Linked DNA regions of Homo sapiens. The protein of the gene in region 1 purifies or fractionates together with the protein of each later gene. This does not show direct contact. Each region holds a gene or a part of one and is shown in the gene's direction. Other genes may lie near its edges.

The links.
Region 2: the proteins of AGK (region 1) and GTPBP6 purify together in Homo sapiens (affinity purification with mass spectrometry, with the first as the bait; one large-scale study listed by BioGRID). This does not show direct contact.
Region 3: the proteins of AGK (region 1) and TNFAIP2 purify together in Homo sapiens (affinity purification with mass spectrometry; one large-scale study listed by BioGRID and IntAct). This does not show direct contact.
Region 4: the proteins of AGK (region 1) and SLC25A24 purify together in Homo sapiens (affinity purification with mass spectrometry, with the first as the bait; one large-scale study listed by BioGRID). This does not show direct contact.
Region 5: the proteins of AGK (region 1) and COX11 purify together in Homo sapiens (affinity purification with mass spectrometry; one large-scale study listed by BioGRID and IntAct). This does not show direct contact.
Region 6: the proteins of AGK (region 1) and SLC39A14 purify together in Homo sapiens (affinity purification with mass spectrometry, with the first as the bait; one large-scale study listed by BioGRID). This does not show direct contact.
Region 7: the proteins of AGK (region 1) and SFXN2 purify together in Homo sapiens (affinity purification with mass spectrometry, with the first as the bait; one large-scale study listed by BioGRID). This does not show direct contact.

The regions. Positions count from the first base shown.
Region 1 is NC_000007.14:141,652,410-141,655,744, forward strand, and holds the end of AGK (acylglycerol kinase, mitochondrial isoform 1 precursor), read left to right. Parts: intron 1-377; coding exon 378-515; 3' UTR 516-2,835; downstream 2,836-3,335. UniProt on the Homo sapiens protein: Lipid kinase that can phosphorylate both monoacylglycerol and diacylglycerol to form lysophosphatidic acid (LPA) and phosphatidic acid (PA), respectively. Does not phosphorylate sphingosine. Phosphorylates ceramide.
Region 2 is NC_000023.11:312,297-315,796, reverse strand, and holds part of GTPBP6 (putative GTP-binding protein 6), read left to right. Parts: intron 1-497; coding exon 498-568; intron 569-776; coding exon 777-907; intron 908-1,579; coding exon 1,580-1,647; intron 1,648-2,872; coding exon 2,873-3,031; coding exon of another isoform or gene 3,032-3,265; intron 3,266-3,500.
Region 3 is NC_000014.9:103,122,171-103,126,260, forward strand, and holds the start of TNFAIP2 (tumor necrosis factor alpha-induced protein 2), read left to right. Parts: upstream 1-1,290; 5' UTR 1,291-1,781; intron 1,782-2,204; exon of another isoform or gene 2,205-2,336; intron 2,337-4,090. UniProt on the Homo sapiens protein: May play a role as a mediator of inflammation and angiogenesis.
Region 4 is NC_000001.11:108,158,844-108,162,343, reverse strand, and holds part of SLC25A24 (mitochondrial adenyl nucleotide antiporter SLC25A24), read left to right. Parts: intron 1-1,050; coding exon 1,051-1,162; intron 1,163-3,500. UniProt on the Homo sapiens protein: Electroneutral antiporter that mediates the transport of adenyl nucleotides through the inner mitochondrial membrane. Originally identified as an ATP-magnesium/inorganic phosphate antiporter, it also acts as a broad specificity adenyl nucleotide antiporter.
Region 5 is NC_000017.11:54,959,922-54,962,788, reverse strand, and holds the end of COX11 (cytochrome c oxidase assembly protein COX11, mitochondrial), read left to right. Parts: coding exon 1-56; 3' UTR 57-1,462; coding exon of another isoform or gene 1,463-1,524; 3' UTR 1,525-2,162; coding exon of another isoform or gene 2,163-2,223; 3' UTR 2,224-2,367; downstream 2,368-2,867. Other genes in the region: TOM1L1 (TOM1-like protein 1), read right to left, coding at 2,163-2,223. UniProt on the Homo sapiens protein: Exerts its effect at some terminal stage of cytochrome c oxidase synthesis, probably by being involved in the insertion of the copper B into subunit I.
Region 6 is NC_000008.11:22,419,278-22,423,236, forward strand, and holds the end of SLC39A14 (metal cation symporter ZIP14 isoform a precursor), read left to right. Parts: intron 1-274; coding exon 275-421; 3' UTR 422-3,459; downstream 3,460-3,959. UniProt on the Homo sapiens protein: Electroneutral transporter of the plasma membrane mediating the cellular uptake of the divalent metal cations zinc, manganese and iron that are important for tissue homeostasis, metabolism, development and immunity.
Region 7 is NC_000010.11:102,721,136-102,724,635, forward strand, and holds part of SFXN2 (sideroflexin-2), read left to right. Parts: intron 1-3,500. UniProt on the Homo sapiens protein: Mitochondrial amino-acid transporter that mediates transport of serine into mitochondria. Involved in mitochondrial iron homeostasis by regulating heme biosynthesis.

The DNA.
Region 1 (3,335 bases):
ATTTGAGAAGGATTAGCATAATATAGAAAGACTATGTATATGAGTTCCTTAAGACATGGCAGGACCCTTGCCTTTTAATACATATTTGAAAATTATAACCATGTTGTTCAAATCCCAAAATACTCTGGGAGGAGATAGGGGCCAAAAAAAGAAAATAAATCCTTTTTCATGGATGGTAGAATTAGGATGTTTCCAGAACCAGCACTGTGCCCATCGTAGTAGGCACTGAATTTTTTTTTGTAAAAGAACATTAGGATAGCTCCTCAAGAGAGGATGTTGTTTTCCATAATGAACTTCTTCTGGTGCTGCTGTGAGACCTCCAACTCCAGTAGGCCACTGATGTGTTTGAGCTGTTCTGAATATTCTCTTCTCCCCAGGGAGCAGGGGGCTCTTTTAGCATTGACAGTGAGGAGTATGAAGCGATGCCTGTGGAGGTGAAACTGCTCCCCAGGAAGCTGCAGTTCTTCTGTGATCCTAGGAAGAGAGAACAGATGCTCACAAGCCCCACCCAGTGAGCAGCAGAAGACAAGCACTCTGAGACCACACTTTAGGCCACCGGTGGGACCAAAAGGGAACAGGTGCCTCAGCCATCCCAACAGTGTCGTCAGAGGGTCCCCAGGGCATTTTCATGGCAAGTACCCCTCTGCCCCCACTCCAGCAGTGCTTCCCAAAGTGTGCTCTGTCACCTGCTTTGCAATCGGCTTCCATTAGCGCATGTTTTATTTTGGTGTGACGGTTGGCCCTCCTAAACACGGACTTTCCTCAGGCTGGTTCAAGACGGAAAAGGACTTTCTTCTGTTTTCTTCCAAAGTGCAACCACAGTGGAGAGCCCACGGTGGGCTTAGCCTGCCTAGGCCCTTCCATTTCTCTTCTTTGACCGTGCTAGGAATTCCAGGAAAGTGCATTCCTGCCCTGGTGACCTTTTCCTATGTCTAGGCTCCTCCACAGGTGCTGCTATTTTGTGAGCTCCGGCTCCTGTTTAGCTTTTATTTCAGTTCTAACCTCAGTCCAGAAACATATGTGAGGTTGTTTCCCTCTTCAGCCACGGCTACAATACCGGAAAATGCTAGTTTTTATTTATTTTTTTAAGTAGTGCTTCCTAAATGGTTTGCATGAGAGCCACCTGGGGTACATGTTGAAAACTTATTTGGGGTCTACCCCAAACCTAATAACCCAAATTTGGGGATGGGGCCCAGGAATATGCATTTTTAAAAAGTCATCTGCCCTTCCCAGGTGATTCTGTAAGTTGTCCCTCAACTGTACTTGGAGAAATCGTGTTTTAAAGCAGTAGTCCACAAAGTATTCTGCTCATGTGCCCCCAAAAGTATTTTGAAAAATCATGTATACCCTCACCCATCTAAGTTGATATCTAAAATTTTATCTAAGTTGGTATCTAAAATTTTTCATGGGAAGTTAAATAGTTGACAAAGTATGTATTTGCTGGTGTCGTGTAAATATTGGTATTTTAAAATAAAAACTGTTACATCACTATTTTAAACATATCCAGTACAATTTAAATATCACAACAATTTGACACCCTTCATTCATTTATAAAAATAAATGAGCTAGTTCTTTAGTAGTTAAACATTTCAAATTGGCTTTTCTCCTTCTGTATTTCCATACCACTTTTCAGCCAAGAATCCTATCATAATGTAATCTATTATGCCCGACATCTTTTAATCATTCACCCCATTACTTCTTGTCAACAAAAAATATAAATGGAAATTTTTTTTTTAGCTCTTGCTTTAAGTGTTTGTTTGTTATCTCAGTCCAGAACCAATATTATCGTAATTAATTATTGGTATATAATGAAAACGGTATTAATTCTTGGATGATTAAAAGTTTTTTTATTAGAATGTTCTTTATCCTAATTAGTTCATTTATCCAAGAATACATGAATGTGATTTACAGCTGAGATGGGGTTCAACCTCAGCTGTATTCCTTGTTTCTGTATAGATGTAAGCACATAAATTCGATGGAATAGAATTACGTTAACAATGTTTTTACAGTTCTTTGGATTCCTTTGGCATTTTGACAAAGATCACAGTGCTCTATCATCAAGAATTATTAATGATGATCTATCAACTAACAAACAACTTGATTAGATTCTCCTTTAGTCTGTTGAAAGCAGAGAACTGAAATCCACCTGATTTACCATGGCTTTGCCAGCCAGTCATTAGCACCATTTACTTTTACTATCGCTGACATTTTCCTTTGTTCAGTGGCCCTGAGGTTCTTACACTCTAGGGGGCAGTGCACCACAGGAAGATAGATCAATGAGGGAGGATTGCGAGGGGGAAGGGGAGGAAGCAGAGCTGGCAGGCCTTAGCTACAGGCTCTCTCTCAGGCAGATCCCTTTTAAGATACATACACCATGCCCACACATCCCATGGAGAGAGACCAATGCTTTAGTAGATTACAGAACAGCTATGAAAAGTCCATGAATGAAGATCACAAAAAGGAAGGCTTTCTTATTTCATACTGTATTCTTCAGGGTGGTAAAATTTCTGCTTTTGGCAAAAACATAACAGACGGTTCCAAACATCAGCATAAAGATCACTCATCCCATACCACCCACAGGTAGGGAGGAAGGATGCTGTAGTATATGAAAACAAAAGTTTTCACCTGAGCTGAGAGCATTTAGCATATCGTGGTTCTGTAACAATATCAAGGACCAGTGCAGAATCTGGCTTTCTTTTCTGATAGGCTACCAGTGTGTGTTTATGTGTGCTCATTTTGTGGTTCTAATCATAATGGTACATATAATTAGGGAAGGATATGGAAGCCACTTTAGAATCTTATTCATTTTTAAATATAAATATGCCTTGTTTCAAACTTTGTTTTCTTGATTCAGGCTTTCTTTCCTGTGAGGGCTTGGTTTCCTTATTGTTGACTGCTTTGTTCTTTGCCTTGTCCTTCCCTATAAAGCCTGCATGGAAGACGTTTAATAGTGCAACTAAAAGAGAGTCAGCTGAGTGAGGCTTGTCAGCCAAAGCTGGAATGCTGAGCTATCTGGAGGAGATCCTAATAACCCAATTTGGGGATGGGGCCCAGGAATCTGCATTGGGAAGTCGGCCACCCTTCCCAGGTGATTGTTTAGTACAAACTTTTTGACAGATTAATTTCACTCAAATGCAAAGATTAATCCCAGCACTTTGGGAGGCCAAGGAAGGTGGATCACCTGAGGTCAGGAGCTCGAGACCAGCCTGGCCAACGTGGTGAAATCCCATCTCTACTAAAAATACAAAAATTAGCTGGGCATGGTGGCATGTGCCTGTAGTCCCAGCTACTCTGGAGGCTGAGGCAGGAGAATCGCTTGAACCCGGGAGGCAGAG
Region 2 (3,500 bases), on another chromosome or scaffold:
TGTGTCCCTGCTGGGATGTGTTTACTGTGTTTGTGTGTGTCTCTGTGTATGTGTCTGTGTGTGTGTCTGTCCCTGTCGGGATGTATTTACTGTGTGTGTGTGTGTGTGTGTATGTGTTTGTGTCCCTGCCGGGATGTGTTTACTGTGTTTGTGTGTGTCTCTGTGTGTCTGTCTGTGTGTCTGTGTCTGTCCCTGTCGGGATGTATTTACTGTGTGTGTGTGTGTGTGTGTGTGTGTGTGTGTCTGCGTGTGTATGTGTTTGTGTCCCTGCCGGGATGTGTTCACCGTATGCATGTCTATGTCTTTGAGACACACACTCCTAGAGACACACCCCCTCCCACGCTGACTTCCTGGATCCCGGGTCTCGTGCTCAGGAAGTCGGGGATGCCTGTGAAGTGAGCTCTCCGCGGTGCATCCCACAAAGGGTATGGTGGGCTCATCCCACAGTCCACGGGTGTGGACGGCCAGCCTCTGACGGGACCCCCTCTTTCTGTTAGAAAAGATCCGAGGGTCTCCAGACATCACGTGCGTCTTCCTGAACGTGGAGAGGATGGCTGCCCCGACCAAGGTACCACAGGATGTGGCTTGCTGTGTTTGTCCCCGCACTCCACGCGATGAAGGAGGGGACGCCACGGCGTCCGGCCAGGCGGGGGACAGATGGGGACAGATGGGGACACGGTGGGGTTAAGGCATTAGAGACGTCCTCCTTCCTCTCACATTGGCCACCAGGGCCCGGCCTTCCCCCGTGGCTTCTCAGTTGCTCTCTCCTTTTGCAGAAAGAACTGGAAGCCGCCTGGGGCGTGGAGGTGTTTGACCGCTTCACGGTCGTCCTGCACATCTTCCGCTGTAACGCCCGCACGAAGGAGGCCCGGCTTCAGGTGGCCCTGGCGGAGATGCCGCTGCACAGGTATCGTGGGGCCCCTGGGCCGCGCCGAGCGTCACGTCCACTCCCGGAACCCCTCCGTTCTGTAGTCACCTGTAGGGCGTTCTGGGGGTGCGTGAGGAAGAAAAGCACCATGGGGGCCGGGCGCGGTGGCTCACGCCTGTCATCCCAGCACTTTGGGAGGCCGAGGTGGGCGGATCACGAGGTCACGAGATCGAGACCATCCTGGCCAACACGGTGAAACCCCGTCTGTACTAAAAATACAAGAAAAAAATTAGCCGGGCGTGGTGGCGGGCGCCTGAAATCCCAGCTACTCAGGAGGCTGAGGCAGGAGAATGGCGTGAACCCCAGAGGTGGAGCTTGCAGTGAGCCGAGATCACGCCACTGCACTCCAGCCTGGGTGACAGAGCGAGACTCCGTCTAAAAAAAAAAAAAAAGAAGAAAAGCACCGTGTGGGCTCTCTCTCCGGGGCCCGTTGCCCCCACTGCCTGCCCCCGGCTCCCCACTAGGCAGGTCCCCTCGGCCCGGGACACGCGTCACTCACAGTGTGTGAGCTACACGCGGAGCGGGGCCGCAACAGCGGCTCCTCCCTTCGGCCCAGAGGCCCAGCTCAGTGCCCCCTTCACCTTCACCTCGACCTCTGCCGGGAGGGAGACAGCGTCCGCAGAGACCGAGCCACTCCCGTTCCCACACCAGGTCGAACTTGAAAAGGGACGTCGCCCACCTGTACCGAGGAGTCGGCTCGCGCTACATCATGGGGTCAGGTAACTCGGGCCGGGCGCGGCGTCCCAGAGGGTCCTCGGAATGCGGTTGTCAGCGGCAGCCACCCTTCTCAGCCCTGGAAGATTCCAACAGGGTGGGGTCCAGCTGGGGTCTCCGTCTCCTGGTAGCATTTGAGGACATAGGAGACCCTCAGCCCTGGAAGATTCCAACAGGGTGGGGGCTGGCTGGGGGCTCCGTCTGGTAGCATTTGAGGAGATAGGAGATGCTGGTGGTTTTTGGAGGTTTTGCCTAAATCAGTAGCCACAAACTGGGGATTTAAACAGCAGAGATCTATGCTCTCCCCTCCTGGACACCAAAACTCTGAGATCAAGGTGAGGACAGGGCTGCGCTCCCTCCAGGGGCTCCTTCTGCCTCTCCCAGCTCCTGGGGGCTCCAGGCATCCCTGGGTTTGTGGCCGCGTCACTCCAGTCTCTGCCTCCGTCTCCACGTGGCCTCCTCCTCTGTGTCTGTGTCTCCTCTTCTGTCTCTTACAAGGACACATGTCATTGCATTTATGGCCCGCCCTAATCCAGAATCGTCGCATCTCTAGATACTTCAGTTATGACAAACACCTTATTTTCAAATAAGGTCCCATTGACCAGTTCTGGGAATTAGGATGTGGACAGATCTTTTAGGAGGACCACAGTTCAATCCGCTACACTTGTATCCACTTCCCTCTGGAGGCTCTAGGGCAGGGTCCTTCCTGCCTCTCCCAGCTCCTGGGGGCTCCAGGCGTCCCAGGCTTGTGGCCTCGTCACTCCGGTCTCTGCTTCTTAGAAGGACACAGGTCGTTGCCTTAGGGCCCACCCTAACCTAGGGTGATATTTTGAGACCCTACAAAGACCATATTTCCAAATCAGGTCCCATTCCCAGGTTCTGGGACTTCGGATGTGAAAGGGGCCCCACTGAGCCCGCTCACGATGACGTCCTGGGCCGTGTCCCGCTCGGAGGCCTCCGTAGTGATCTGGCCTTTACTTTCTCCCCGAGTCACGGGAAGCCCTCGTTGACCTCACAGGGTGGACACCCGGAGGCGAGATCCCGTTCCGCCGAGCAGAGCCCTTTCTCATGGAACAGGACGTGTCGGGGCCGCTGCTGGGGAAAGCAGCCGGGCCCCCAGATGCTGGAGCGGGAGCAGGCCCCGGGCCCCCGCAGACCCTCCGCGGCACCGCCCGCACTTGTGCCTTTCCCGGCGTGGCTCACCGCCTCACCATCTCGGGTGTCTTTTAGGAGAATCCTTCATGCAGCTGCAGCAGCGTCTCCTGAGAGAGAAGGAGGCCAAGATCAGGAAGGCCTTGGACAGGCTTCGCAAGAAGAGGCACCTGCTCCGCCGGCAGCGGACGAGGCGGGAGTTCCCCGTGATCTCCGTGGTGGGGTACACCAACTGCGGTGAGCACGCGCCCAGGGGAGGGGCCTTCCGCGGTCTCCGTGTCACCGGTGAGGACTCGCCCGGGGGAGGGCAGGGGGTCCCTGTCGTCTCAGTGGTGCCGTACGACAGCTGCGGTGAGCACGTGCCCAGGAGAGGGGGTTCCCATGGTCGCCGTGTGGGGTACACCAGCTGCTGTGAGAGCTCACCCAGGAGACGGGTTTCCTGTGGTCTCTGTGTGGGGTACAGCAGCCAAGGTGAGGATGTCATCTACCCCATCCTCCCATCCAGAGCTTTACCACCCTGTCTATACCACAATCTCCCCTCCATCTACACCATCCTCCTGTCTAGACCATCCCCACTGCCCTATCTATACCACCACCCTGTCTACACAATCCACCCATCTACACCATCACCTCTCCTCTGTCTATACCATCCTCCTGTCTACACCAGCACCACTACCCCATCTATACCACCACCCCGTCTACATAA
Region 3 (4,090 bases), on another chromosome or scaffold:
GGCCTCCCGCATCCGCTCCCCCACAGGTTCCCCAGAGACAGGATGATGGATGGCAATCCGAGTGCAAACCTGGCGCTTGGCCAGCACTCTGGAAGAGGAAGTTCTCAGTTCCCAGGGCACCTGAACCCACAGCCGCCCCCACTCCGCTGGCCCCCCTGGTCCTGGAAGACCTGTTACTAGGCTGCAGAAGGGGTGGCGGAGTGATCAGGGGGCGGGGAAAGAGGCCAAACAAAAGAGGGGAGGAGCAGAGGCCCCAGTGAGGCAGGAGGGAAGCCCCTGCCCAGCGGGAAATTCCTAAATGTCTGGGTCCTTTCCAGAGGGCAGGAATTCCTAGCCTAGAGTGTGAAATAAGGAAGGAAGTGAATCTCCAGTGGGTTCCCTTCACAGCCCCTTTCCATCCTCCCCACATGCCCCACCCCCACATCTCCCAAAACAAACCCTGAGAGACGGTGTGGATGGGGAGACAGGCCTGGAAACGGAGGCCTGCGCTGAATGGGCAAAGCCGGGTTGATGATCCAGACGAGGCCCTGGAGTCTGGGCCTTGGGCCCCTCCCCTTCTGCCTGCTCCGGCAGCCTGTGGGTCCAGCCCCAGCCCCAGAGGGGGAAAGGCTCCAGTGGGAGTCCCATAGGCCTGGCTAGGAACCCCACTCCGCTACTTAAAGTGGTGTGAGCCGGGTCAGCCACTTCACCTTTCCGCATTTACGCATTTCAAGCAAGGCTTGACGACCGGAGGGGCTCAAGGCCCTGTGCACAGCCGCGCGGCCAGCACTCTGGCCAGCCTTGTAGCCCCCTTCCCCTTAGGGGGCCTCCTTCAGGAAGCCCCCGTCCCCTGCCTCCTTGTGGCCACGGTGACACCGGAACACTTCAGAGGGGCGGCTGGGGAGTTGGGGTGGGACGGGCTCTCCCGCAGCTGGAGCCGGTGTGTGACGCGGGAACGCGGCCAAGCGCGCCCCATCCAGGCGGCCTATCAGGAGCCGTCGTCGGACAATGGCTCCGCGCCTGACAACCCCGTCGTCCCCGTGCCGTCCCCCGAACTCCACATACCATGCGACGCGCGGCCAGCCCCCCGCCCCTGCCCGGCTGCTGGGAGGAAGTGACAGCGCCCCGCATCCCCCGCTGGGCAGGCCGGGCGCGCCCAGCCCCTGGGACGCAGGGACACAGCCGGGCCGCGCTGGGCCTTGGCCTCCGCCCGCGGGTTTTCCGCGGTTGCGGCGGGGCGGGGAAGGAGGGGCGGGCGGGGCGGGGCTGACTCTGCGACTATTTCAGGCCTTGCGGAACCCGGGCCAGGACAGTGGCGGCCAGGCCGGGACACGGTAAGTGACCTCCGCTTCCACACGTCCATTCCCCGCCGCTCCGCGCGGCTTCTCGCCCGCCCCTACCCCGAGGCCAGGCCGGATTCCCCGAGGAAAGAGCCTGTCGCCGCGGCGGGGACAGGAGGGGGCTGGACGCTTCCAGGGAAACTGAGGCCCTGGCGCGCCCAGCGTCCGCGCGTCCGGGCGCAGAGGGGCCAAGGCTGGCTGAGGGCCCGGGCCTGCCAGAGGCAGGGAGGGCGGGGCTGGGGCAGGCGCAGGGGTCTCCCCTCCATTACAGCAGAAAGGCCCCAGGTCCGGCGTGACTCCCCGGCCGGGCGACACAGGCCGAGTCACTTCCTCGCCCGTGCCCGGGTGTCCTCATCGGGGGATGGGTGCGCCTTCCACATCCTGCCCAGGACTGAAGGAGCCGGGCCCAGCGAGCTCCCGGGAGGTGTGTGGACATCAGCCCTGACGGGGAAGGCGAGCCAGGTCAGTGGACCTGAGGAGAGGCCGGGCAGCAGGAGGCTGGGGGGCGCTGTTGAGCCACTGGCTGTGACCCCTCTACGAGCCTCCCAGCAGGCCCCTTCCTGCCTCAGTGGGCCCAACCAGCGGCAAGGCTCAAAGGAACGCCCCTCCTCCCCTTCTTCCTTTCTGGCTGCACCGGCTCGCTGCTGCCTGCAGGACAGACTCAGGACACAGGAGACTCACCCCCACTGAGGCCCAGCTAGGCGCCCAGCACTTGGCTGTGCGGTTTGGCCACATCCCCTCAGCAGCACTGTGGGGTGGGGGTCCTCATCCCCTTTTCAAAGACGGGGAAACGGCGGCTTGTGAAGGAAGGAGGTGTGCAGTCCACACACTAGTGAGAAGTGTGCTGAGCCCACACCGAAAGCGTTTCTCTTTCCATGGCACCAGCTGCCTCGGAGAGCGGAGACCTGGGGCGAGGCCCAGGGGGCTGCAGCAGGACCTTCAGGCGCTCTGGGTTTCGTGTCACAGAGGGGAGAAGGCGGTGATGCTGTGGGGGTCCTGCGGGAGCTGTGCCTGGAGGTGGGACAGAGCCTAGTACATGTGGGGTGGGACAGGGAAGGCTGAGGTGAGGCTGGCAGGGAGCATTGCTGGTAAGGGCCACCCTCCCCCACCCCAGGAGAATGGCAGAGGTGGGGCCTGGGCACCCAGGGTGGGGCTGAGTGGCCCTGCCAGACAGACCAGCTCCCGCGGGTGCTAGGCATGCACCTGAGAGGGGCTGGGAAGCGAAGTTGGGGCACCGGGTGGGGAGCAGAGGTGCCCCATGGCCTTGCCCCTGGGGCTCCCTGGAGCATGCCCCTCTTGGTCCTGGAGTGGAATGCTCAACCCAAATGGCACTAGGGAGGCCAGTGCCATCCAGGAGTGTGGGACTCTGCCCAGGGCACTGGGTGAGCATGGCAGGGGCTGGGGGTGGGAGGAGCCCAGGCTTCCTGTCCCTCAGGTGGCTCTGGCCAAGCCCCTCCAGGATGGGGACAGGGTAGTGGGGCTGGTGGAGGCAGCGGGGCCATGGGAAGAGTCGGATGGGCCCAGTCTGAGCCTCCATGGCTGCTGTGCTTGGGGCAAACACCTCCTACTCAGCCTCAGTTTCTCCTTCTGGATGGTGGATCATCCTGCCTGCCTTGCAGGGCTGTTTCAGGGGTCACTTGAAGTTACCATGATACATGAGACAAGGCTGCATGCATTTAGTCTTGGGGTGGGGCAGACAGGTGGCATCAAGGTTACAGGTCACCCCAGTTCTTGGGGAGGCCCAGCCCCTGCCTGCTTCCCCCTTTCAGATCAGCCATGCTCTTCTCCAGTGGACCTGGCCTTGCTCTGACAATGGTCAGGTGCTGGGCAGGGACTCTGGGGAAGCTCGGGTCTTGCCTCTCTGGATGTAGCTTGCAGGATAGCTGGGGATGTGGAGGCAGGGGAAAGCTGGGCTCTGGGACCGGGTGGCCTGAGTTCCAAGCCCAAGCTATTGACTATAGGGACAGTTTAAGCCGAAATAACACCCTTCCAGATGAGAGAAAGGAAGAGATGGGATGGGCACCCAGGAAGGCTGCAGAAACTGGAAGCCTTTGTGATGATGCTACGATCCCATTTGGGAGGGGGTGGGAGCCAGGAAGCCTGGGTTCTGGACCCGAGTTGCTGTGTGACTTCAGGCCGCCCTGTGACTTGCTGAGCCCCTTGCCCCAGTGATGTGTGAAAGGCTGTCTGAGGTCCCACCCACTGTGGCTTCTGTAGATCCTGGTCAGGCTCTGCCCCTTTCATGGCCCAGCTGGAGCAGCTGTGTTTCTGTGACCCCACCGCTGGATCAGAACTGGACAAGATGGCAGAGGGGCTGGGTCTGGGCAGGAGGAGGCTGGGTTCCAGTCTCAGGCCGGTTCTGGTGTTCTAGACCCCGGCATGTCCCAGACCTTTCTGGACCTCTGTTCCTGCTCTGTCCAAAGGGACAGAGCCCATGCCCCGCCTCTTCCCTAGGGTCCCGTGGGATCCAGGGAGGTGTCCATTGCCTGCTTCCTGCCCAGAGGGTGGGCTGGCAGGGAAGGATTTGCCCAAGTAAAGTGAAAGTCCCCCTCTGTGTGGCGGGCTTGGCGTCCCCAGCCTCTTCCTTGCTTCTGGGGCTGTGAAGTATTGGAAGGGGAGCTGTAGATGGTGAGATGCTCGTGGCCAGGGAGGAAGCACAGTTGTTGGTGCTCATCTGGGCCAGGAGATGAGCAGAGCCCCGGTGGCTGAATGGGTGAAACAGACTGAGTGTACTCAATGCAGCCAGCATAGCTGTGTGTCCAGCCTGGGAG
Region 4 (3,500 bases), on another chromosome or scaffold:
CTAGAAATATCATTTGACCCAGCCATCCCATTACTGGGTATATACCCAAAGGACTATAAATCATGCTGCTATAAAGACACATGCACATGTATGTTTATTGTGGCACTATTCACAATAGCAAAGACTTGGAACCAAGCCAAATGTCCAACAATGATAGACTGGATTAAGAAAATGTGGCACATTTACACCATGGAATACTATGCAGCCATAAAAGATGAGTTCATGTCTTTTGTAGGGACATGGATGAAATTGGAAATCATCATTCTCAGTAAACTATCACAAGAACAAAAAACCAAACACCGCATATTCTCACTCATAGGTGGGAATTGAACAGTGAGAACACATGGACACAGGAAGGGGAACATCACACTCTGGGGACTGTTGTGGGGTGGGGGGAGGGGGAGGGATGGCATTGGGAGATATACCTAATGCTAGATGACGAGTTAGTGGGTGCAGCGCACCAGCAAGGCACATGTATACATATGTAACTAACCTGCACATTGTGCACATGTACCCTAAAACTTAAAGTATAATAATAAAAAAAAAAGACTCAAAGGCACAGTCACTGACAGTTTGATTTTTTATAATAGCTGTTAATTTTCCTAACTTCGAGGAAGTTGATAGCATGTTTTGAGTATATTTCAAAACTACATTCAAATGTTGCAATAGAACATTAAGAATTATCTTCATGATCCACTAAGTGCATGAAAAAAATGGATAATGAATCTATTCATTACCATCGTTTAATATTTTATCTTCAAGTTTTTGTGTTTTGTAGCTCATTGGCAGAGTTTGACAGAGTGCTGAAAGTATTCTTTAGTGAGCTGGCTGTAATTTTTGGGCCCATTTTTATCTAGATAATTAAAACTATCTGACAGGACCATAAAATGCTTGCTGCCATTTCCAACAACCTATATTTGTGGATGGGGTTTTTTAATTTAATGAGAATATTATGTTAGAAAAGAAACTGTCATTCTGTAAAGTGGCCAATAATGTTAGTTTTATTTATCAATTTAGTTTTGTACTTTGATCATTTTTTTAAAATTTCAGCATTGATGTTGATGGGACAATGACAGTGGACTGGAATGAATGGAGAGACTACTTCTTATTTAATCCTGTTACAGACATTGAGGAAATTATCCGTTTCTGGAAACATTCTACAGTAAGTCTACTTTATGTATTTATACTTATTTGGAGCTATAAACCATAGGTACAGTTATCACCCAAGAACACTCTGTAACACTTATGGGCCAGGATACCTGAGTCCCAGTAGCTCCTTAACCTGTAGAGTTCTATTTATTCTATTAGGCATAGATTTATAGAGTATTAAACAAAAAAAAACAGCTCTCCCTCTCCCTCTCCCTCTCTCTCCCCCTCCCCACGGTCTCCCTCTCCCTCTCTTTCCACGGTCTCCCTCTGATGCCGAGCCAAAGCTGGACTGTACTGCTGCCATCTCGGCTCACTGCAACCTCCCTGCCTGATTCTCCTGCCTCAGCCTGCCGAGTGCCTGCGATTGCAGGCGCGCACCGCCACGCCTGACTGTTTTTCGTATTTTTTTGGTGGAGACGGGGTTTCGCTATGTTGGCCGGGCTGGTCTCCAGCTCCTGACCGCGAGTGATCCACCAGCCTCGGCCTCCCGAGGTGCTGGGATTGCAGACGGAGTCTCGTTCACTCAGTGCTCAATGGTGCCCAGGCTGGGGTGCAGTGGCATGATCTCGGCTCGCTACAACCTCCACCTCCCAGCCGCCTGCCTTGGCCTCCCAAAGTGCCAAGATTGCAGCCTCTGCCCAGCCGCCACCCCGTCTGGGAAGTGAGGAGCGTCTCTGCCTGGCCGCCCATCGTCTGGGATATGAGGAGCCCCTCTGCCTGGCTGCCCAGTCTGGAAAGTGAGGAGTGTCTCTGCCCGGCCGCCATCCTGTCTAGGAAGTGAGCGTCTCTGCCCGGCCGCCCATCGTCTGGGATGTGAGGAGCCCCTCTGCCTGGCTGCCCAGTCTGGAAAGTGAGGAGCGCCTCTTCCCGGCCGCCATCCCATCTAGGAAGTGAGGAGCGTCTCTGCCCGGCCGCCCATCGTCTGAGATGTGGGGAGCGCCTCTGCCCCGCCGCCCCGTCTGGGATGTGAGGAGCGCCTCTGCTCGGCCGCCCCGTCTGAGAAGTGAGGAGACCCTCCGCCCGGCAGCCGCCCCGTCTGGGAAGTGAGGAGCGTCTCCGCCCGGCAGCCACCCTGTCCGGGAGGGAGGTGGAGGGGTCAGCCCCCCGCCCGGCCAGCCACCCCATCCGGGAGGTGAGGGGTGCCTCTGCCCGGCCGCCCCTACAGGGAAGTGAGGAGCCCCTCTGCCCGGCCACCACCCCATCTGGGAGGTGTACCCAACAGCTCATTGAGAACGGGCCATGATGACAATGGCGGTTTTGTGGAATAGAAAAAGGGGAAAGGTGGGGAAAAGATTGAGAAATCGGATGGTTGCTGTGTCTGTGTAGAAAGAGGTAGACATGGGAGACTTTTCATTTTGTTCTGTACTAAGAAAAATTCTTCTGCCTTGGGATCCTGTTGATCTATGACCTTACCCCCAACCCTGTGCTCTCTGAAACATGTGCTGTGTCCACTCAGGGTTAAATGGATTAAGGGCGGTGCAAGATGTGCTTTGCTAAACAGATGCTTGAAGGCAGCAGGCTCGTTAAGAGTCATCACCACTCCCTAATCTCAAGTACCCAGGGACACAAACACTGCGGAAGGCCGCAGGGTCCTCTGCCTAGGAAAACCAGAGACCTTTGTTCACTTGTTTATCTGCTGACCTTCCCTCCACTATTGTCCTGTGACCCTGCCAAATCCCCCTCTGCGAGAAACACCCAAGAATGATCAATTAAAAAAAAAAAAAAAAAAACAACCCAAGACTGCATAAATGTCCATTCTGAAAACTTGGAAGAAGTACCACCTTGATGAATAAGCTGTCTAGCTTTTATTGGCATTTAAGTATTCTGCCATAGGGAAGTGTAAAAGTTGTAGGCTTTTACTTTTTATAGGTACTATATTGTCCAAATAATCTCAGCACCTCATGGTTGCTAAGGATCTGTGTCCTTGTTTGGTCAGATTATGTTTATCTCTGGCATAAGGCACTTAACAATATTCATTAAAGGTTACAGAATCTTTTTGCTTCATCTGCTTAGCATTTCATACCAGTTTGTTTTCCACCAAACTTTCAAATTTTGATTGTTTCATTAATATTCTGCATACTGATGTAAACCAAGTTCTATTATTGTGCAATCTGCTCCTGAAACCCTTAGGAACTCTCTGAAGGAGTTTTATTTATTTTTTGTTTTTGTTTTTGTTTTTGTTTTGTTTTTTTGAGACGGAGTCTTGCTCTGTTGCCCAGGCTAGAGTGCAGTGGTGCGATCTCGGCTCTCTGCAAACTCGGCCTCCGGGGTTCACGCCATTCTCCTGCCTCAGCCACCGGAGTAGCTGGGACTACAGGCACCCACCACTGCGCCTGGCTAATTTTTTTTGT
Region 5 (2,867 bases), on another chromosome or scaffold:
ACACTTTTTTTGAAGCAAAGGAAGGGCACAAGTTGCCAGTTCCAGGATATAATTGAAGTCAGCAACTAAGTCTTCCTTCAAAGTTGTGATTTTTGGGAAAATCATATATCCTATCTTCTCAAAGGAGAAATATTGTACAATAATATGAAGGCTTATATTTTAAATAATTATTTTTTCTCAACTAATTTTTTTCACTTAAACTTGAGAGAACAAGTTCAGCTTTTATCATAAGAAACTCATATGCCTAGCTAGAATATATGACTGACTATTCAATACCATACTGAAGAGTTTGATACTATTAAAATAAGCCGCTTTGTTTTTTAAATATGCAGGCATGGGTTCAGCTTAATTCCATAATTCCCTTCCAGATTATTAACTCTTCATACTTACAGCAATGAATCTGACAATGTTTTTCAAAAATGTATGCTCAGGGTTATTTGTTTCAAGTCATAGGCCAGAACTTCTAACCATGTTTATTGTGTCTAAAAGAGTTGGTTGCTATTTTCCTTCATTATGAATAGTCAGTATTTTAAAAGCTCAAAGTAGAAGAGGAGTCACTAAGCCCTAACAGCTTGTCCAAAGATTTAAATTCTTATTTCAAATTTGATTTGTCCTTTAAGGTTTAGGGCTATTTTATATTCAGAGTTCTGAATAATTACTTTGAAACTGTAGTATCATAAAATTGAAATAAAATACATCTACTAGGCTGTTAGCCAAAGCATCACCATTACAAGTCCATGAATGTTAAAATGTACAGGTGGGATTGTGAAGATTTACTGACATCAAAAGTTCTTCTGGAAACAAACCTTTGTTAAAAAAAAAAAGTATTAAATTGTTTTAATAGTGATTTATTTGTCATCAAATGTACAACTTATTCTAAATATTTTCATTTTCTGTGTTCTAAATAGAAATATTAAGTTGCAGTAAAAAGAGAAAAAAAGGCTATTTAGCATTACAAAGAATCATATTTAAAGGCTGCCCAATGTAGAGTCTAGTGACCTGTTCAGGACACCTGAAATATAATTAAATGACAATTATCAAGGTTTTAACAATTTATAATTCTAAACCAGAGGATTATAAAGAAGTGCAAATTGACTTTTACATTCAACTTTAGTTAAATGAAGGCACTCAGTATTCTTCCTGAATAATACATTCAGTTTCTCACATTTTATGCTTTCATCTATTCAGAATTATTTCATAGTAAAATAATCTACTCTTATCACAGCTGTGTGACGATTTCTAAATGTAGGAAGGCCTGTGAAACATGACACTGCAGTTAAATTGGTTGGCCTAAGGACTAAGTAATTTTTCTTCTGCTGAAGTTTTAAGTGAGTATTTGTTCCAAACAAGTTCTGTTGAAATCTCACGCTGTTGTCAGGAATCAGTGTTATCCTGGAACTGTTATTCTATTTAATCTTCATTATAGCAGAAATGTGCCACCATGGCTTTGACATGTTGGTAGGTATTGTCTTCCAGGCTTCAAAGCTGCACAGAGTCTACGTTTTAGAGAGTTGGCACCTTTGATGTGGTAGTGAGCTGATCATCCACTTTCTTCTAAAATAAAGAGAAGAAAATGGCCAGTATTCATCCTGTCCTTCTCTTTCCCCATTCCTTGATAACTCTCTTGTCTTTACTGGGAAGCTGGAGAGTCACAGTCTAGTAGAAGAAAGGTAAGAATGTGCTTCTTCCATAGGGGAGGGTATAAGGGGAATAAATAAGTTTTGATAGTTCATTGGTGACCATTAAATAGTAAATACATGGGATTAGTAGTGCTGAAAATAGGAAAAATTCAGACCTATTTGGAGGACTAACGGTAAATGGGTCTACTGGTACCGGTTAACAAGTATTAACTGCATATGAAAAACAAATGCCTGATTTCAGTGCTACTCCTATTGCTCATCTATTTTGTTAGCATTAATATTTCTATACCATAAACTACTGTATTCCCAAGCCTTACTATTTACAGATGAGAAAATCACAAAGAATGACTCTCATTAGTGAACAATGGTTCAGCACAATTTGAATGATTCAGGGGAACTCATATTTCAAAGTGTCAGACTCAGATGGCCCTTAGAAAATTTAAATACTAAATATGTAAAGTGATAATTATACTGAAATTATATGGAATATGGAATTAAGTTGTATAAGTTGAAGTCTTTACCTCAGTCACCATCATTTTGAGCTCCTTTGTGCTGGTGAGCATCAATTTCTTCATAAATAGCTCTGAAACAAAGCCATCACAGCAAAAGGGTTATGTATCAATTTCAAAGTGCTATTTTGGTTTTTAACTGCCAGCACTGTAATTAAAAATTGAGCTGGTTTTGGAGTTCAGGCTACATATGAGTAAAAATAAGTCTCTGCCCTGAAGTGTGTATTCTAGTTTATTTAAATTCTAATGTTGCACTTCATTTTTTCTTTTTTTTTGAGACAGAGTCTCACTCTTTTGTCCAGGCTGGAGTGCAATGGTGCTTTCTTGGCTCACTGCAACCTCTGCCTCCCAGGTTCAAGTGATTCTCCTGCCTCAGCCCCACGAGTAGCTGGGATTACAGGGACACACAACCATGCCCAGCTAATTTTTTTGTATTTTAAGTAGAGACAGGGTTTCACCCTGTTGGCCAGGCTGGTTTCAAACTCCTGACCTCAGGTGATCCACCCGCCTCGGCCTCCCAAAGTGCTGGGATTACAGGTGTGAGCCACCACACCCGGCCTTATTGTTGCAATTCCTATGTCTCTTAAAAGTATGTATTTCATAGAACCAATTAATTTTTTCTTGTGATTGAAATGAGAAATATGACTCAAATTTGGACAGTTTATGTTTTGCTTAAAAAACTCCTCAGTTTCTTCTGGTTTCAAACTTTTTAAAAAAA
Region 6 (3,959 bases), on another chromosome or scaffold:
GGTTCAAGCAATTCTCCTGCCTCAGCCTCCCAAGTAGCTGGGACTACAGGCCTGCGCCACCACGCCCAGCTAATTTTTATGTTTTTAGTAGAGACAGGGTTTCACCATGTTGGTCAGGCTGGTCTCGAACTCCTGACCTCTAGTGAGCCGCTGCACCTGGCCCTGATAATTTTCTTTGTCAACCAACCTGATCTATATCTCCATCACTGAATTGCCCTGGACTTACAAGATGAAGAAGGAATTGCAGCTGTGTTGTTTCTTGCTTCTTTCCCAGTTCCCTGAGATGAATGAGGTCTGTCAAGAGGATGAAAGGAAGGGCAGCATCTTGATTCCATTTATCATCCAGAACCTGGGCCTCCTGACTGGATTCACCATCATGGTGGTCCTCACCATGTATTCAGGACAGATCCAGATTGGGTAGGGCTCTGCCAAGAGCCTGTGGGACTGGAAGTCGGGCCCTGGGCTGCCCGATCGCCAGCCCGAGGACTTACCATCCACAATGCACCACGGAAGAGGCCGTTCTATGAAAAACTGACACAGACTGTATTCCTGCATTCAAATGTCAGCCGTTTGTAAAATGCTGTATCCTAGGAATAAGCTGCCCTGGTAACCAGTCTCTAGCTAGTGCCTCTTGCCCTCTCCTCACCTCCTTTTCTCTCAGTGACTCTGGAACCTGAATGCAGCTTACAAGACAAGCCTGACTTTTTTCTCTGATTACCTTGGCCTCCTCTTGGAACCAGTGCTGAAAGGTTTTGAATCCTTTACCCAACAATGCAAAAATAGAGCCAATGGTTATAACTTGGCTAGAAATATCAAGAGTTGAATCCATAGTGTGGGGCCCATGACTCTAGCTGGGCACCTTGGACCTCCAGCTGGCCAATAGAAGAGACAGGAGACAGGAAGCCTTCCCATTTTTTCAAAGTCTGTTTAATTGCCTATTACTTCTCTCAAAGAGAACCTGAAGTCAGAACACATGAGCAGGGTGAGAGGTGAGGCAAGGTTCATCCTGAATGGGAGAGGAAGTCGAACCACTGCTGTGTGTCTTGTCAGGATGCTCACTTGTTCCTACTGAGATGCTGGATATTGATTTTGTAACAGCACCTGGTGTTTCACGGCTGTCCGAGTGAGCTAACGTGGCGGTGTGGCTGCCTGGACCTCCTCTTTCAGGTTAACGCTGACAGAATGGAGGCTCAGGCTGTCTGCAAGAAAACAGTTGGTTTGGCTGTGATTTTGACCTCCTCTTCCCCACTGCCATCTTCTAAGAGACTTTGTAGCTGCCTCCTAGAAGCACATTCTGAGCACATTTGAGACCTCTGTGTTAGAGGGGAGACTGCACAAACTATCCTCCCCCAGGTTGAGACGTCTGCAGAGTGGCAAGCTGACTTGTAGAAATGGGGTGCCATTTATGCTCTACTTAGACAAGGGTAATCAGAAATGGAATCAGTGCAGGCAAAATTTAGGATTTGCCGCTTCCATAAATCAAAGCATGACTAATAGGGGGTCTCTGAAATGTAAGGGCACAAACTTCACTTAGGGCATCGCAGATGTTTGCAGAATGGTTGGCCTAATGATTATGCTACAGATGGGTTTTAAATGACCCGTCTAGGTTACTGCTTCCTTGCAAAAAAAGTCGAATCCTGCATTGAATTGAATATGAATTTCTCTAACTCTCTCCAGAAAATGGATGGAGATAACTTGTCTTTAAAACTGTAGGCCAGCCTTAGCCACTGTGGAGCCCTTGCCTCCGAGCTCTGGCTTCAAGGGGAGCTCTTCTCCAGGTTCACTAGGTGAATTGATTTATTATTATCATATTGATAATGTGAGATTCTTTAGCCACTTTGGGGAGCCTGTCTCTCCAGAAGCCTTTCTTAGTGGTGCCCACAGTTGGAGCCCAGGGGCCATGTTTGCAAACTGATTCATGTGCATGGCTGACAGGAGTACTGGTTCACTACCAATGCCTGAGCTTTTCTCTTACATAGAAAAACTGTCCGCTCTCAGTAATCACAAGCAGCATCCGTTTTGTTTTCTCTTCTTGGGAGACATCTGTCAAACCAGGAATATTCTTGAAAAGAACGTGAGCAGGAAAAACTGCTGGTGATACTTTTTTTAAGTTTTGTTTTTATCTTGCCTGTTGGCTTCAATACATTTGAGAATACGCTGAAGAGGGAAAATTTCAGTGATGGAGATTCTAGATTAAATATCAGGACTGATTTCCTGGTGGGATTATGGTCCAGTTTTACCAAAGAACCAATTCCTTGAATGTTGGAATCTAACTTTTTATATTGTCATTATTATTGTTGTTTTTAAACGGTTCTTTGTCTTTTCTGTTTTATTTTTCTCAAGCTGCTTTCAGGAGCTAGCAGAAAATAACTCAAAGTTGAAGACTCTGGAAGATTTTGCTTTAACCTAACTCGCATTGATGTATTAAATTTATAATTTTAGCATTCCCAATAGATCCTATCATTCCTTAAACATAATACCCTTTGTCTTGGAGTAGAATACTAAGTTAGAGTTAGTGGATTTCTAGTTTAGGAGAGGAGCTCAAAACTATAATCTTTAACAAATTGAAAAATGAAATAGGGTGTTTTCCCTTTTTGTGCACACCTATATTACCTTAAGAAATTTCCTTCCATAGACAGCTGCCTCAAAGGGAAATCCTCTTTAAACCGTAGTTGGCGCAGAGGTCAGTCCTAGTCGGAGCTTAGGAGGGGCGGAGACGCTCACATCGTCTGACTTGAGTCGCCACTGATTGTGGCAACAGCTTTGCCTCATGAGTCAAAAATTGGCAATTTCTTTTGATTTTTAGTTGTTGAATTTGCTGTTTCAAGCATTTGTACATATTAGAAGTCTAAGGAGTAGCAAGTCAGTGGGAGGACTTTTTCACCCCTGGCATTAGCAGCTTCGACCTCATTTTCCAGATGCACCAGCTCCTATTAATAAGTTAGCAAGGAAAGTGTATGTCACGTGCAGGAACAGTGAGGCAGGGACAGGGGTTCTGCTCCTTCTCACTTCACCACCGGCACACAGCTTGCCCCTGTCTTTGCCCCCAAAGGTATTTTGTGTCTAGTGTCAAATTGGAGCTATTCTTCACTGGTCCTTAACCTTGGGTTTTAAAAAGAAGGCTTCTCTGTTTGGGTAGCGTAAGAGCTGAGTATAGTAAGTCCTCTTCCAAAGAGATGGCAATATGCTGGGCATCTACTTTAAAACAAAGTTGTCTGATTTTTGCAAGAGAGGTTAGGATTTTATTGTTCTTATTTCCCTTTACAGTTCTGCAGTTCCATCACAGTATTTTTTTAAATAACTCAGGTGTATGAGAAGAAATTAGAAAAGAAAATTAACTTATGTGGACTGTAAATGTTTTATTTGTAAGATTCTATAAATAAAGCTATATTCTGTAATTGTTGAGAATCCCACGGGTGATCATTTGCAATAAATGTGGATGTAATGAAGGCTGTTGAACACAAGGTGGCGATGGTGTCTCACTGACGTACAAAGTTTTGTTTTACCAGGTCTGGTTTAACATTTGACTGGGATTTTAGAAGGTTTTTTTTGTTGTTGTTATTGAGACAGAGTTTTGCTCTTGTCGCCCAGGCTGGAGTGCAGTGGTGCGATCTCGGCTCACTGCAACCTCCACCTCCTGGGTTCAAGCGATTCTCCTGCCTCAGCCTCCCGAGTAGCTGGGATTACAGGTGCCCGCCACCACGCCTGGCTAAATTTTGTATTTTTAGTAGAGATGGGGTTTCGCCATGTTGTCCAGGCTGGTCTCGAACTCCTGACCTCAGGTGATCTGCCCGCCTTGGCCTCCCAAAGTCTTGGGATTACAGGCTTGAGTCATTGTGCCAGGCCAAGAAGGAAACTTTTGTACTCTCTTCTCTTTTCTTTCTTTGAGACAGTCTCACTCTGTCACCCAGGCTGGAATGCATTGGCACGATCTCGGTTCACTGCAGCCTCCGCTTCCT
Region 7 (3,500 bases), on another chromosome or scaffold:
CCAACAGCCACAGTTATGTGAGCCAATTCGCTAATTCCTTGTGATAAATCAATTTCTATATTTTATCAATATTATATTACGTCAGCATTATATATATTTAGGCCAGGAGTGGTGCATGCCTGTAATCCCAGCACTTAGGGAGGATGAGATGGGAGGATTCCTTGAGCCCAGGAGTTTGAGATTACAGTGAGCTATGATTGCACCACTCCACTCTACCCTGGGCAACCAGCTGAGACCCTGCCTAAAAAAAGAAGAAAAAATTATAAAATCTATATAGATAGATCAACATATATTTATAACATATAAAGTTATATATTTATATATGATTTTATATAGCTATATGAATTATTTATGTTTATATATTATTTTTATATGTTATATTTAAACGTAATTCATGTCTATATAAATAAATGTATATATAAATTTATATATTATAAATATATGTTGCTATATCTATAAATTTAAAAAATTATATATTTATATAGTTATATAATTTATATATTTAGAAAATATATATTATAGTATACAAATATATTTTAGAAATATATAAAATATGTATATGTGTGTGTCATAGCCAGGTGCAGTGGCACACACCTGTAATCCTGGCACTTTGGGAGGCCAAGGCAGGCAGATTGCTTGAGCTCAGGAGTTAGAGGAACTCCATGTTGCCCCATGTTATGTTTTGGTATCTACCTGTCTGTCTGTCTGTAATCTACTGATTCTGCTTCTCTGGTTGAACCTTGACTGATAAAATGTTCCTCTTATACCTATTGCTTAGCAGACCTTAACATTCCGCTTCTTTGAAAGATTCTCTCCTGTTGGTCTCTCCTCTGAGTGCACGTGGGTTCATTTGAGCCCTACCTCTTCTTGCCTGGATTACTGGGGTTCTCGTCCAGCTGGTCTCCCTGCATCCCGTGAGGTCCATCCACATCCTGTTTATTCTCATGACTACCCAGTTTGTTCTTAGTAAACTACATATCTGATCTTGTCACTCTTCTTCTTAAAGTCTTTCAATGACTCCCTGAAGCTTTCAGGCAAACATTTAAAAGCGTCAGCTTTTTTTGTATGACTCCATTTTCTCTCCTCTCTTAGCATATCAATTATACTTCTTTTGAAAACCTTTTTAGTGGTTGCCCAGGAGTCTGCAATGTACATTTATGACTAATCCAAATCCACTTTCAAATAACACTATACCACTGCATGGAGTGTGCAAGTACCTTAGAATGGAGTCCTCCCAATTCTCCCCTCCTGTCCTTGATATTACTGCTGTCATGGATTTCTCTGATCCATAAACTGTAATCACCAAATACATTGTTGCTACTATTGTTTTAAACAAACGTATCTGTTTGTTAACTGTTAACAGTTCAGAATAAGAGAAATAAAGATTTTTATTTGTTTGTTTGTTAGTGTTTTTTCCCAGACAGGGTCTCACTCTGTCGTGCAGGCTGGAGTGCAGTGGCACGATCACAGTTCACTGCAGGCTTAGCCTTAGCCTCCCAGACTCAAGCAGTCCCCGCACCTCAGCCTCCCAAGTAGCTGGGACCACAGGCACATGCAACCACGCCTGGCTATGTTTTTTTCTTTTTTAATTTTTATAGAGACAGGGTCTCACTCTGTTGCCCAGACTGGTCTCAAACTCCTGGGCTCAAGCGATGCTCCTGCCTTGGCCTGCCAAAGTGCTGGGATTATAGGTGTGAACCATCCCACCTGACCAGAAGAACTTCTTTTAACATCTTGTAAGTCAGGTCTGCCAGTGACAAATTTCCTGTTTTGTTTGTCCAAGAAAGTCCTTTTTTTTTTTTTTTTTTTTTTTTGAGACAGGGTCTTACTCTGTCACCCAGGCTGGAGTGCAGTGGCTTGATCTTGGCTCACTGCAGCCTCCGCCTCCTGGGCTCAAGCATTCCTCCCACATCAGCCTCCCCAGTAGCTGGGACTGCAGGTGTGCACCACCACACCTGGCTAATTTTTCTATTTTTTGGTAGAAAAAAAAATACAAAATGAGGTTTCACCATGTTGGCCAGGCTGGTCTCAAACTTTTGACCTCAGGTGGTCCACCGGCCTTGGCCTCCAAAGTGCTGAGATTACAGATGTGAGCTACCATGCCTGGCCGACTAGAAAGTTTTGTTTTTTTTTTTTGACAGAGTCTCACTCTGTCACCCAGGCTTGAGTGCAGTGGCGTGATCTCGGCTCACTGCAACCTCTGCTGCCCAGGTACAAGCGATTCTCCTGCCTCAGCCTCCCGAATTGCTGAGATAACGGGCACCTGCCACTGCGCCCGGCTAATTTTTGTATTTTTAGTAGAGATGGGGTTTCACCGTCTTGGTCAGGCTGGTCTCAAACTCCCGACCTCAGGTGATCCAACCGCCTCGGCCTCCCAAAGTGTTGGGATTACAGGTGTGAGCCACTGCGCCTGGCCCCAACTAGAAATGTTTTAAGGGATATAAAGCAGTTAGTACTTGAGATGATTCTTCTGTAAGATATGGGATAGGTGGAAATGGGTAACGACTAACAGAATCAGATGGTATGCATCCCCAAATAGTAATTCCAATGATCTAGGAAGACCAACATTCCCACACCATCCCTACCACCACAGACTCAGTGTTTCTCAATGAGAGACAGAATTTGTGTATGGAGGATCTGAGTCCAAGCCCTTCTATTAGTATAATTGCATTAATATTATTTGTTTCTTTTTTTTGTTTTAACTTTTACTTTAGATTCAGGGGTACACGTGCAGGTTTGTTACATAGGTAAACTTGTGTCACTGGGGTTGTACAGATTGTTTCATCACCCAGCTACTAAGTTTAGTACCCATTAGTTATTTTTTCTGATCCTCTCCCTCCTCCCACCCTTCACCCTCAAGTGAGCCCCAGTGGGGTCTGTTGCTCCCGTTTTTGTGTCCATGTGTTCTTATCATTTAGCTCCCACTTTTAAGTGAGATATTTGGTTTTCTTACTTATAAATGTGATATTTGGTTTTCTGTTCCTGCATTAGTTTGCTAAGGATAATGGCCTCCATCTTCATCCATGTCCCTGCAAAGGACGTGATCTCGTTCTTTTTTGTGGCTGCATAGTATTCCATGGTGTACATATACCACATTTTCTTTATCCAGTCTGCCATGGATGGGCCTTTTGCATTTGGACAATTTCTACTGACACGTGTTCAGGCTCACTGATTCTTTCCCTGGCCATGTCCAGTCTACTGATGAGTCCATCCAAGACTTTCTTCATCTTTGTTACAGTATTTTTGATTTCCAACATTTCCTTTTGATTCTTTCTTAAGAGTTTCCGGCTGGACGTGGTGGCTCACGCCTGTAATCCCAGCACTTTGGGAGGCCGAGGTGGGCGGATCACGAGGTCAGGAGATCGAGACCATCCTGGCTAACATGGTGAAACCCCATCTCTACTAAAAATACAAAAAATAGCTGGGCATGGTGGTGCACGCCTGTAGTCTCAGCTACTTGGGAGGCTGAGGCAGGAGAACCACTTGAACACGGGAGGCAG